Homo sapiens: one gene and its partner. The protein of the gene in region 1 purifies or fractionates together with the protein of each later gene. This does not show direct contact. Each region holds a gene or a part of one and is shown on either strand. Other genes may lie near its edges.

What was found. The genes of interacting proteins can lie anywhere in the genome.
Region 2: the proteins of TRIM61 (region 1) and VXN purify together in Homo sapiens (affinity purification with mass spectrometry; one large-scale study listed by BioGRID and IntAct). This does not show direct contact.

The regions. Positions count from the first base shown.
Region 1 is NC_000004.12:164,971,220-164,974,657, forward strand, and holds part of TRIM61 (putative tripartite motif-containing protein 61), read right to left. Parts: intron 1-3,438.
Region 2 is NC_000008.11:66,492,328-66,496,365, reverse strand, and holds the start of VXN (vexin), read right to left. Parts: upstream 2,801-4,038; 5' UTR 2,718-2,800; coding exon 2,648-2,717; intron 1-2,647. UniProt on the Homo sapiens protein: Required for neurogenesis in the neural plate and retina. Strongly cooperates with neural bHLH factors to promote neurogenesis.

The sequences.
Region 1 (3,438 bases):
CCCTTGTTGTTAGGAGATATATCTATATACTGATGCACAGCGGGAAGCCATCTGAAACTTTCAGAAGGTTCAACAATTAAAAAAATGTGTAGCCGAGTGCGGTGGCTCACGCCTGTAATCCCAGCACTTTGGGAGGCCAAGGTGGGCAGATCACCTGAGGTCAGGTGTTCTAGACCAGCCTGAATAACATGGAGAAACCCCGTCTCTACTAAAAACACAGAATTAGCTGGGTGTGGTGGCACATGCCTATAATCCCAGCTACTCAGGAGGCTGAGGCAGGAGAATTGCTTGAACCCGAGAGGAGGAGGTTGTGGTGAGTGGAGATCGTACCATCGCACTCCAGCCTGGGTGACAGAGGGAAACTCTGTCTCAAAAAAAAAAAAAAAAGTGTAAATAGAGAAAACATGAATGTAGCAAAAGTTAACAACAGGGGTGAATCCAGGGAAAAAGTATAAGGATGCATACCCTTTCAATCTTTCTGTAAGTTTGACACTTTCAAAACAAAAGTGAGGCAGAAAAACTTCCTGGCTTGCTTTCAAGACACCCACAGGTACCCGATTTTAAGCAAGTCAAATTCCTCCATCAAAGCTTGAAAGCCACCTAACCATCAATACAGTATTTTTTCCCCTTCACCTCCTTTCCCTAGACACTTTCTTAACTCTTCTTCTTCCTCTCACTTTCCTCATAACCCAACGACAGTGACAGTAATAGTATGTGCATGGTTTTGACATGTGAAACTGGCTCTGTCTTGGTGACCTAGCAAGTTCTTTTACTATACATTCTCTTTAGACTAGCAGAATAGGAAAATATGCAGTAGCCCTAGAAAGTCACCATTTATCCATTATTCCCAAACTTAAAGTTTTAATTCAGTGTCCTAGGACTGCACAAGCAAAAGCTATCACAGCAACATGCTACAGGAGGCAGTATTTCACAATGTAAGCACTAACATTATTGAGAGGACACCAGGTTTGAATCCTGGCTCAGCTATTGACTGTGTATCTTTAGAAAATCGATGTGTCTTTTTTTGAATCGCATTTCTTTGACCTGTAAAATGGGAAGTATAACAACCTCTTTTTCTTATAAGAATATCATGTAAGTTGTAGCTAATTCTTCTCGACCAAAGGAGCTTTCTGTTAGATGTATTAGAATCTGGATCCAAACAAGAGCCATGTATTGCATTTGCTTATTAGTTCTTTTAAATCTTTTTCAATCTAGAATAATGTTCCCTGCCTCCACCTTTGTCCTAGACTACCCCAAATTCAAGATTTGCCTATTGCTTTGTGTGTGTGTGTGGAGCCTTGTTCTGTGGCCCAGGCTTGAGTGCAGTGGCACAATCTTGGCTCACTGCAGCCTCCACCTCCCGGGTTCAAGTGATTCTCCTGCCTCAGCCTCTTGAGTAGCTGGGCCTACAGGCGTGCGCCACCACACCCGGCTAAGGTTTGTAACTTTAGTGGAGACAGGGTTTCGCCATGTTGTCCAGGCTGGTCTTGAACTCTGGACTCCAAGTGATCGGCCCACCTTGGCCTCCCAAAGTGCTGGGATTACAGGCATTAGCCACCGCACCTGACATGTCTATTGCTTCTTGATATCATTTAACTTGTCCCTCAGGCCTTCACTTTTTAAACAAATTAAATGTTGTTTCCCCTCATAACAATCTGTTTATAACTCCCCACAAGTCAGGACAAAGTTTTTCACCCTTAGCTCGCCATTCAGAACCCTTCGTATTTCATTATCTTCATCTGGCTACAGTCTCCTAAAGTACTTAACGAAAACAAACAAACAAACACAGGTATCATGCTTTCCCTCTTCTGCACAAACCACTTTCTGCTTAGATTACCCTACCCTCACTTCTTCCCTAGGACTAAGTTTTGGTCCTTCTAGAGACTCAGCCCAAGACACATGTTCTCAAGGATAATTTATTATATGTCAGGCACTATGCTAAGGATCTTCCATATAGTCACAGGTTCAATTAAACCATCAGAACAACTCCGTAAGTTAGGAGCTATTATCCTCAATTAGAGCTATAAAAGCCTAGAGCTGTAAAAGCGGAGTCTACAAGAATTTGAACATGCTTATCCAACATTACGCTAATTGGCATAACCACTGGCATGATAATCACTAAGTTGTACTGCTCCTTCTTTACACTCGCACGGCATCCTATGCAGCCCTCTATATATCAAATCAACTTAGATTTTTCATATTTGATATGTTCAGTTGTTCATATTTAATAATGTATCCCAAATATTTTAAAAGGGAAAAATGGGCTTACTGATCCAACACTACAATGGAGAAAAGAGATAAAATACAAACTGAGAGCTAACAATACCTAACAGAATTGGGTTTTCATCCAACTCTAACACTTAGCTAGCTACATGTACTTGGTCAAGTTAATTTCTCTGAGTTTCACTTTTCAGAAAGTAGGAAATAATACTGTCTCAGGTTTTAAGCATAAATGAATAAATTATCTAAGACACCTGTCACAGTCCTTGGCATTTAACCCATGTACAATAAAAAATATTGTAGGACTATCTCAGAAAATCTCTCAAGAGGTCATACAAATTTAGCTGAATCCACATACTTCTATTATAGCATATTATAGTTGATGTATTATATGTAATACATACATATATAGAGATAACCTATATTTACTTACATATAAAACACATTGGGCCAGGCGTGGTGGCTCACACCTGTAATCCCAGCACTTTGGGAGGCCAAGGCAGTGGATCACTTGAGGTCAGCAGTTCGAGAACCAGCCTGGCCAACATGGTAAAACCTTGTCTCTCCTGAAAATACAAAAATTAGCTGGCAGTGGTGGCGCATGCCAGTAATTCCAGCTACTTGGAAGGCTGCAGCGGGAGAATTGCTTGAACCCTGGAGGCAGAGGTTGCAGTGAGTAGAGATCGTGCCACTGCACTCCAGCCTGAGCAACAGAGCAAGGCTCTGTCTCAAAAAAGCAGCACATTGACATTTCACCTAAAAGCTGTTATGGCTTATAAGGTTGCTAGTCCTGAAATGATTAGTAAAGGCAGTAACTTCCAAGGGCTCACTGTAGTAGTGGTGTGCTTCAGAGAATTTTCCTATACTAATTTTGGAGTAAGACAGAAGTTTTAGAATTTTAAAATACATCCTTTATTTTAAATAGCCCTCCATATTGGCAAGTTCAGCATCCACTAACACAATTAACTTCAGATAGAATCGAAAATACAGTATTCCTGGGATGCAGAACCTGCATCCACTGGTCTTGAGCATTCATGGATTTTGGTATCTTCGGGTGCCCTGGAACCAATGCCCTGTGTATATTGTATATCCAGGGATGAGAGTACATTTAACTTGTGAAAAATTCTAACACAACACTACAGAAAACATAGAATAATGGCCGGGAGTCGTGGCTTCAGGGCTGTAATCCCAGAACTTTGGGAGGCCAAGCTGGGTGGA
Region 2 (4,038 bases), on another chromosome or scaffold:
TGAGAAGGTTTGAATCTGTGGCGAGGCAGGGGCATAGAGGAGGGGACGGGAAAAAGAGACAGGGTCGTTGCGATTGAAGATGTTACTTGGCTTGAGTACAAAGTTCATAGCTGCATTACTCACAAGAGCTGAAGTTTGGGAACAACCCAAATGTCCACCAACAGATGAATGAATAAACAAAATATGGTGTCTGTATGTGATGGAATATTACTCAGCCTTGAAAAGGAATGGAATTCTGATACATGCCACACATGGATGAACCTTGAAAACATGGTACTAAGTGAAATAAGCCGGACACAAAATGTCACATAGTCTACAATTCCTCTTAATATGGGGTTCCTAGAGTAGTCAAATTCATAGAGACAGAAAAACAAACAAACAAAAGGACAAAAAACCAAATTTGTAGGACAAAAAGTAGAATGGTGGTTACTGGTGGCTGGAAGAGTGGGGGAATGAGTTAGTGTTCAACGGATTCAGAGTTTTAGTTTGGGATAATGAAGAAGTGCTAGGATGGATGGGGGTGATGGTTGCACAACAATGTGAATAGACTTAATGCCACTGACCTGTACACTTAAAAATAGTTTTTAAAATGGTACATTTTGTTATGCATATTTTGCCACAATTATAAAAAAGCTTAAAGAAATTAACCATTAAACATGTTACTTGGTTGGGAAAAGGTTTTACAGCAACTTCACAAGATAGCTACTCTTGTACCACAAGGAAGTGGCCATGAATGAAAATGGGAAGGGAAAAAAGATAAGATTAAATATTTATCTTTGACTGATCATGTTGATTATTCTAAATACAAAATAAAATTGGAAATCACTTTTTAAGTGATGTATTTAATGGTGCTTACTACATGCCAGCTACTGTTCTAGATGCTTTATATATTTACTCATTTATTCCCCATATGATCCTGGAAGATAAGTTGTTTCTCCCATTTACAGCAGTGGAAACTCAGGCCCAGAGAGGTTAAGTAGCTTGCCCAAGGTCACACAGTGCAGAAGTGGCAGCAGTCTCTTAACCACTTCGTTTTGACTTTTTCTTCCTTTAAAAATTTTGTAAATGGAAGTAAATGATAGAAAATAAACACATGTAACATTTTCATATTTCCTTCTACTTTGTTTTCTTCTCATATACAAGAAATACAAAATCAGAGGCAATGTTTTGGTTCTCTTTCTACCCTTCCCTAATTCTCCTTCCCTACCTTCCCAAGACTACTGAGATCACTAATTTTATCTGTATCTTTCTGGTCTATGTTTTTGTATTTTTCTCTAGATACATATCCATAAACAATATATAGTATTGGTTTATATTTTCAAATTTACAGAAATGCTATCTTACATATATAATTTTTCAGCCTGCTTATTTGGCACTCAGCATTATGCTTAGATCTACCTATGTTCACAGGCATACATCTAGTTTATTCCTGTTGACATTGTATAGTATTCCACAGCATGACAGCACCACATTTTAACCATTCCCCTCTTCATGGACACTCAGGTTATTTTCAGTTGTGCCTTCTTAGAATCAATGCCACCGTGAACATCCAGGGGTAAGAGGAGTTCCACCCAAAAGCGAAACTGCTGATTCCGAGGGTCAACTTGGACTTTCAGAGTTTCCAGAGGGAATTCCAACTCCTGCACGTGGGCAGCAGACTCCCAGCTCTTTTCCCTCTCTCTGGATCTGGCAGTAAATGTCTAAAGCTTAATTTATGTCCTGCAGGCTGTCTCTTTGTGGCCAAACGGAATCTCTCCCTGCCCCACTGTGCAATGGCCCTGTCAGCGGCTGACACAGGGGAAGAAAGGAATTGTTTGAATGTGGGCTCACAACACCAGCAAACACCCAGCCTACTTCATTCAAGGCTGACAATGAGACCAGGGGCTAAGCCTGAGTCATGGAGGTGGATGGGAGGGGGCAAGACAGGAGCGCAGGCAGAGAACAGAGGCGGCAGGAGAGGGGGCCATGCTTAGGAGAGGCTGAGGGGACTGACCAGGAACCAGACACTTGGAGTCATCAGAACCCTCACACAAAGCCCTTAACACCGTTCACTGAGGACCACAAGAGCTTATAAAGTCAAGACTCTCGTGTCGCATTCTCTGGCAGCATTAGTTCCGGGTTAAGTTTGCAAGGTGGCCCTGGGTTCTGTGGAGAAGCCAGCCCAGGGTCAGGGCGCTCTCTGACGGCTTCACTGGACTTCAAGCAGCCACCGGGAGTATTTCTCCGCACTTTGCATGGCACAGTTAGAAATCATACTTTTAAGCCAGCTGTTCTCATTTCAGAACCCACTTGCTCACTGGAAAAAATGAAAGTCTCTATCTAGCTACCCTGGGATTTTGTTTTCACCTGTGTGCATAGCAATGGCTTGCTGTCACTTCCATTGGTGTACTGGACTGTTGGTACTGAATTAAATGAGACAGGGAGTATTTAGCTGCTCTCGCCTTCCCCTTGATGGATTGTTTCTCAGTGATTGATGTTTATCCTTGTGCCTCTTTCCCCCCTCCAAAAAATCAAATACCATCAAAACCGAGAGTCCATCAGACCCCAGAGACCTGAGGATAAACCGTAGTAAGGCAGCACGTGACTGTCCTTCCCCTCCTGCCTAAGATGCCACGTTAAGGAAACAGTCAAGGGCAATTTCACTCACCCTTGGAAGGAATCACGGTGGTGAAAACTTCTATGTTCTCGTCACTGCAGCTGTAAATCTGATGCATCATTTCAGCCTCCTCTTCCCGAAGTGCCTGGGAACTGGAGGCCTCTGTCTCTGGACCCCTAGTCGCGAGGCATCCTAATCCAGTCTGGCTCAGGGATCATTGTGCGGGTCCACAAAAGACAGGCTGGTGCTATGAGCTCATCTCGTTCCAGTCTTCACTGCAACATTTTCTAAACCCATCTGTCCTTTTTTTTTTTTTTTTTTTTAAATGAATCCTATTATTGCAAACCTTTGATTGAGCCTGGAGGCTTCAATCCCCTCCCAGCTAGGATGTATTTAACATTTTTATTTTGCGGTGTCTGCCGCAGTGAATTTGGAAGCCTTTTGTGAGGTGACGACGAAGTGAAATCGCCTACTCTGTTAGCGCCAAGCTTGGCTGGAGAATTTCCACCAAAAAGGAAACGTGAATTTTGGTACCAGCAATTCCCTTTCTCATTTCAGAAATGAAGGGGCTTTTTTTTTTTTCTCCCCTCCAGGAGAACGGGATATTCAGTAATTTGTCATGTGCTAACTTGGCTCTCTTAGAAGTTTCTATTTTAAACAAAAGGACTGTTTCTCCAGTGTTTTCCCCTCATGCCATTACATGACAAGGCTGACATTTCTCAAGGGTCCTGTGTTTGGTACCTCCGCGTATAACCCTTAGGTGCTCACAGAGACATGGCAACAGGCAGTGCCCCATGTTCAAGGAGCAAATTATAGAAAGTTATATTTGTATTACCCTATATATCCTAATATATTATATAAACCCTATTATGCTACATATACAGGTTACAGATTATATACTGTCCCGTATATCATATTTATTATATATGTATGTATATCATATGTATATATGTATGTGTATATATATATATCATATATATTTGTGTATGTATATATATCATATATATTTGTATATATGATATATGTATATATAGCATATGTATATATTTGTATTACCCTATATATATTTGTATTACCCTATATATCCTAATACATTTATCCTATATATTTATTATCTTATAAATCCTATTATGCTACATATAGAGGTCACAGGTTATATACTGTTCCATATATCATATATATCATGTGTATATAATATCATATATATCATGTGTATATATCATATATATCATGTGTATATATATCATATATATCATGTGTTTATATGATATCATATATATCATCTGTATATATGATATCGTATATGTGATACATGTACAATGATCCCTGAGCCGGACTGGATTAGGATGCCTCGAGACTAGGGGTCCAGAGACAGAGGCCTCCAGTTCCCAGGCACTTTGGGAAGAGGAGGCTGAAATGATGCATCAGATTTACAGCTGCAG